2 separate regions of the Homo sapiens genome follow, and region 2 is linked to region 1. Evidence: fine-mapped expression QTL. Tissue or cell type: whole blood. Region 1 holds a variant in brackets; the other region holds the start of a gene. All regions are shown on one strand. Distances are from middle to middle.

Region 1 (2,500 bases):
TCCTCATAGAATATTTATAGTCCAAATTCTGTCAACAGTGTAAGCAGTCATAAGATTTATAGATCTTTTAGTTAGATATTATTGATTTGGTTTTCCTTTACTTTCTAGCTCCTATGACTTCTAGAAGTACATCTACTTGGAGAATACCCAGCAGGAAGAGACGTAAGAGCAATTAAAAACTCTTGATGTAACAAATGTCTTTATTTGCTGCAAAAGCTACATTCACTTTTTATGTTATATCCTTTAAAATAAAAAATTAATTTGTTGGGATTTTAGATGATTTGCATTTTACATTTTCAATTAGATGAGTTGGGCTGGTATAAAACATAAGCCTCAAAATGTTCAAAGGCACAAGTGCAACATAAGTTTATTTTTCACTCACATAAATAGGATAAAGTAGTTCCTGAGTAGAGGGGGTGCCCACACAGTCATTCAGGGCCCAGCTGATGGGGGCTCTGACATCTTTAAGATGTTGCTTCCATGGTTCCCTTGGATAAGAAACTGAGATGGAAGCAGAAGTATGTGCAAACTAATAATGAAAGCCTAAGAAGCGTAAGAAACAACGTTGTCCTAGGATTGTATTCAGAAAAGATTGAACATTATGTATGTTCCTTTTATTTGATTATGCATGAATGAGATAGGAGAAAACGATGGAAGGATCCACACTGATCTGTTGACTTCACTAGCTGGGAGACCAGAGACAGAATAGGGTAGGAAAAGAGAGCTTTGGGGTTATATACATTTGCATTCATTGGTCTTCTTATGACAAGCATATATTGCTTTCTTAATTTGAAACCACCCAATGAAATGGATGATTTATAATAAATACATATTTTTCCCAAAGTTAAAAAAAAAAAAGAAGAAGAAACAATGTCATCCCCAGCCCCAGCCTCAGAGAGGGCTCCTGGAGCAATCTTGACCAACAGGTCAGATGATCAAAGCCAAAGGGTGGCCTAGTGGTGGGACTATTTCTCCCCCTCCTCCACAAGCTTCTCTTGTTCAGTTTTGCTTTTAAAGAATTCCCTGCTGATTCCTAAGACTCAGACTAAGACTGTTAAGGAATTTTATTTTTTTCTGCAGGTTTCAGCAGTAGTGACTTTTCAGACCTGAGTAATGGAGAAGAGCTTCAGGAAACCTGCAGCTCATCCCTAAGAAGAGGGTCAGGTAAAGAAGATTAGGATGCCAAGACTTGGCCTGCAGAATGTCAGGAATGTGAATTAAAAGCTGCTGTTTCCAGACGCTTTTTATTCTGAGCACCTTCACTACCTTGTATCCAGTTCATCTGGGAACTCCTTTTTGCATTTTAGAAAATGGAAAGAGGCAGGAAATTATGATAAACTCATGTTTAACAGAAAGAGTTTCACTGACTAAATGTATGTAATTATATTTTGTTGTTGTAGAAGAAATAAATAGCAAATTTGTGGTATTCTTTTTTTTAAACCTG[C/A]TCTCATTCCTATTAACACTAAGATCTTAGATTTTTATAGTGATAAATGGGTTGACATCATTGTCATTTGTAATTGTAAAGCCTCAAAAGACAACTGTTCCTACTATGTAATTATAGACAGAAATAAAAACTTCAGATCAAACACTCTCAAACGTTAGTATAGTTTTTGGTAGATGTCCTTCATCATGTAATTGGATTATATTGTGTTATTTCAATGTCTTTTGGCAAATAATATCTTATTTTGTCATCACAAAATTTTTAAGACATAGGCAGGCTAACTATACCCATTTTGGGGTGAGGAAATAGATGTACAGAAGTATTAGGGCCAAAAAACTAAAGAAACAATAGAAACTAGCAACCCAGGTGTCTCACGGTGGGTGACTGTTGTATGTAACAGACAGGAGGATAAGAGCTGTGTCATTTAAGTCAAAGTCCAAAGAAGATGCGCAAGGAACTCAGAATATTCACAGGAGACTATACCAGTGCCTGATGCAAGAAAGCTTATTTAACAACCACTGTGTGTGTGTGTGTGTGTACACATGCATATATTTGTTACATATAACATGTATACATACATAAACACACACATATGTGTGTGTATATATGTATATTGGTTAATACATATAATCTTTAGGGGGAGGGAAAAATAAAAATCGCAAACAGACAGAGATAATAGGAATGGAACCAGCTATATAATATACAAAATACCTAGAAAGACAGAAGCAAAATAGATAAACATAGAAATAAAGGAGAACAGAACATCATTGATGGAAACAGAAAAAGCAACACAGGAGACAAGATAAATCAAAGGGAGATGAGCTCACCGAATCAAAGAGACAGAGACAAAAATGTATAGCAGCAGGGCAATGGGCAGAAAAATGAGAAGTGAGAAGGAGAACGAAGTGTGGCCAGATAGAGTAGGGCTATGAGGTGTACTCATTGATATAGGTGTATTTTTTTGTCAGTCCGTTTAAGCTCTGAAAATAGTTCAGCATGACCACATTGAGACAGGTTCCCTGGTTTCCTCGTCACTGTCTATAGTCTATTATTTCCTTG
Region 2 (2,834 bases), 54 kb before region 1:
TCTGATGAGAACATCTCCTTCCCTGCTGCCAGGAGGTGCCCCAGCATGGGCATGTCTGCCCGTGAAGTTCAACCCGTAAGGAATTCCCTGCCAGCCTGTGGCTCATTGGTCTGGAATTCCAGGTGCTGCTCTTAGTAGCCCCTAAGCACATCCAGGGAAAAGCTGGCACGTTTATGTCAGTGCCACTCAATGGCCTGAGCCTGCCTGCTGCCCAGAGGCAGCGAGAGGGGAGAACGTGAACCACACCAAAGCATACTGTGTGGTCCATGCCAGGACTTCTTGGGACCAATGTGCCTCATGGAGACTGGGATCAAAGGACAGCTGTGCCCAAAAGAGGCTCAGCTTACCAGCCCTTCAGCCCCATAAAGTCGGGGAGTCATGGGGGGTAGGAAGAATGAGAGAAAGAGAGAGAGACCTACAGGTGAGAGAAAGAGAGAGAGACCTACAGGTGTGCAGTGCCTGATAGAAACAGTGACCTTCGCCCACCGGCAAAGCTGTCCTCACCAATGTCCTGGTGCCTGGTCATTCACTCATGGGGAAAAGAAGAGCAGAAGTAGAGTGAGGGTAGAAAGCCCCTTCCCCCACATTTTCAAATGTACCTGGACAAGCATCCTTATTCACAGCTGGAAGAAGTTGGATTCAGTAGAATGCCATTTGGAAAACACCGTTCTGAAGTGCCATCCCCTCTGGCCCCTGAATCCTCACCAGCTTCCACCCTCTGCTCACCTTGGGCCCTGGATTCCAGCGCCCCCAGGCTCCCAGCTGCCTCCCTGTCTCTGCCCCATGGTCCGGCCTGGAGTTCTGGTCCCTGGTTGTGTCCTGTGGCCCCATTCTCATGCGCCCTTTGCTTCTGTTTCTTTACCTATGACTTTATACTGATGTAAAGCGAGTCTTCTCGGTCGCTTCTTGTTCTCTGAGGAATGATGAATCAGAATCTAAATGGAAAATCTGGGCAGAGATAGAACCTCCCGCGGGAGCCACCCTGCCCTTCCATGTCTAGATCATCTGGGTTCCAACCTCCATCCTCCTCCAATGAGAAGCTTTTGTTCTCTCAAGATTCCAGTGACTTCTCCGAAGCTTAGGTGTCTCTTCACCCCTGGCTGTTCCAAGGCGGCCCCATAGTCAAGATTCCTTAAACCCTTGCCCCTTAAAATGTTTGCCTTTCTTACCATGCTGGCTCCAGCCTCTGGTCCCAGGGGTGTGGAGAGTTCTCTCTTACTTCTGGCTGATTTCCAGGAAGGCTAAGCACACTCTCCCCAGGTTATAATGCTGAGCATTTTGGTTCTCTCCAGCCCTGGGTCCCAATGTCAGGACCTACCTTAGTCCAGTCCATGCTCTCCCATGGGCCTGAGAGAAGATTTGAGGTTTCTGGCTTTCCCTCCAACCCTCCAACTCCCACCCCAAGCCATGTCAGCAAGGGGAAGGGGCAAACATGGAGTTTCCCCCCCAACTCCCATGTAAACTATGCCCCCTCTTAGAGGGCAGAGCAGCTAAGGACAATTTTGTTTCAAGGACATTTTTTTTGGCTGTGTATTGCACAAACAAGTGGACACCCGGGAGCTGGCCCTGCTCGTCCCCTGGGCCCTCCTTCCCTGGTCCTGCAGGTCTTGCTGCTTGTCAGGCCTCTCCTCCAACCCTCTGCCACATTTCAGAAAAGCTGAGAATCCCTTGGAGTGAAAAAGGAGGAGAAACACAGTGTCCGTAGCCCAGAAGGAGGTTAAATACTTTCACTTCTCTTTTCCCCATTTGGGCGGAGCCCTTTCTGAGTCAGTCTGTCGGCCGACTTCCTGCTTGGGGCCTGGGCAGCCACACTGCACGCAGGCTGGGCCGACTGAGGGGCTCAGAGGCCAGGCTCTGAGGCCCACGCAGGGCCTAGGGTGGGAAGATGGCAGGTGGGGGCGGCGACCTGAGCACCAGGTGAGTCTTTATCTCCCTTCCTTTAACCTTTATCTCTGGCTATATTGCAGCTTTCATGCCTTTAGTTCAGTTTGTGCCTAAGGCTTCACTTTAATCCTTCTTTGCAAGAACATAGGTATGCGATGTTATATAATGAAATGAAAGACAAGTAATGAGGAAATCAGATTTTTTAAACAGGAGCAGGACAGCTGTTGGTGTGAGTTCAACTTGCCATAACACACGTGACTTTCTTGTTTTGGATTTACTGCTCAGCTGACCGGGACACTCTAAACATAGCAGTTGTTGGTGGCTGGGATTAACTATTTCCTCATGATCTGTGAACCCTTTCACCCCTCAGCCTTCCTCTACCTTCAAATATGTCATGTCAAAAAAGGTGCTTTAGAAAATAAACACTCCAGGGTAAACACCTGGCTTACTTTTAAACATCAGACGCTGTGGTCTCACCTGTCCTGGCAAGGGGCCTCTGCCGGCTGTTCCCATGACTGGCTCAGGGTCTGAGTTCTTATTCCATCAACCTTGATCAAAAGAAGGAAAGGGAAGAAAAAGGCCCAGGGTGACAAACGGCTAAATATTTTCATTTTTACCTCAATTTCCTGTCCCAAGATGGGGGATACCTCTGACCAGAAAAGAGAAGGAAATCCTAACTTTTCTCTAGTAGTGAGTTGAGAAATAACATTACTTAATCTTTTAAATTTTTTAATACAAAAGAAATACACTGTACATTATTGTTCATAAAATTTAAAACAGTGGAGAAGTATATTAAGGAAAAAGTCATCTTTGCCACTCAGCCATTCTTGTAGCTTCTCTTCCCAGTCCTGTGAAGAGTCTTGGGCACAGCTTTTCTTATATTTTTCTATGCATTTATATATCTAATGCATTTTTTGTAAATACGTAATTTATGTTCTTGATTTATAATA

What was found. PIP is the estimated chance that this variant, and not a neighbour inherited with it, causes the effect.
Region 2: it holds the start of SP100, and the variant in region 1 is fine-mapped to the expression of SP100 in whole blood (INTERVAL, PIP above 0.99).

What each region holds. Positions count from the first base shown.
Region 1 is chr2:230,468,935-230,471,434 of GRCh38, forward strand. It overlaps SP100 (SP100 nuclear antigen), which reads left to right. Exons shown (of 29, transcript NM_001080391.2): 14 at 109-162; 15 at 1,081-1,164. The region is part of intron 3 of LOC101928816 (a long non-coding RNA gene); the gene reads right to left. Among named protein-coding and RNA genes, the nearest start is that of SP100, 54 kb to the left of the region's middle. The variant C/A (reference allele first, on the strand shown) is at 1,445.
Region 2 is chr2:230,414,412-230,417,245 of GRCh38, forward strand. It overlaps SP100 (SP100 nuclear antigen), which reads left to right and starts at 1,790. Exons shown (of 29, transcript NM_001080391.2): 1 at 1,790-1,917. The coding sequence starts at 1,886. RefSeq lists an enhancer at 1,437-1,956.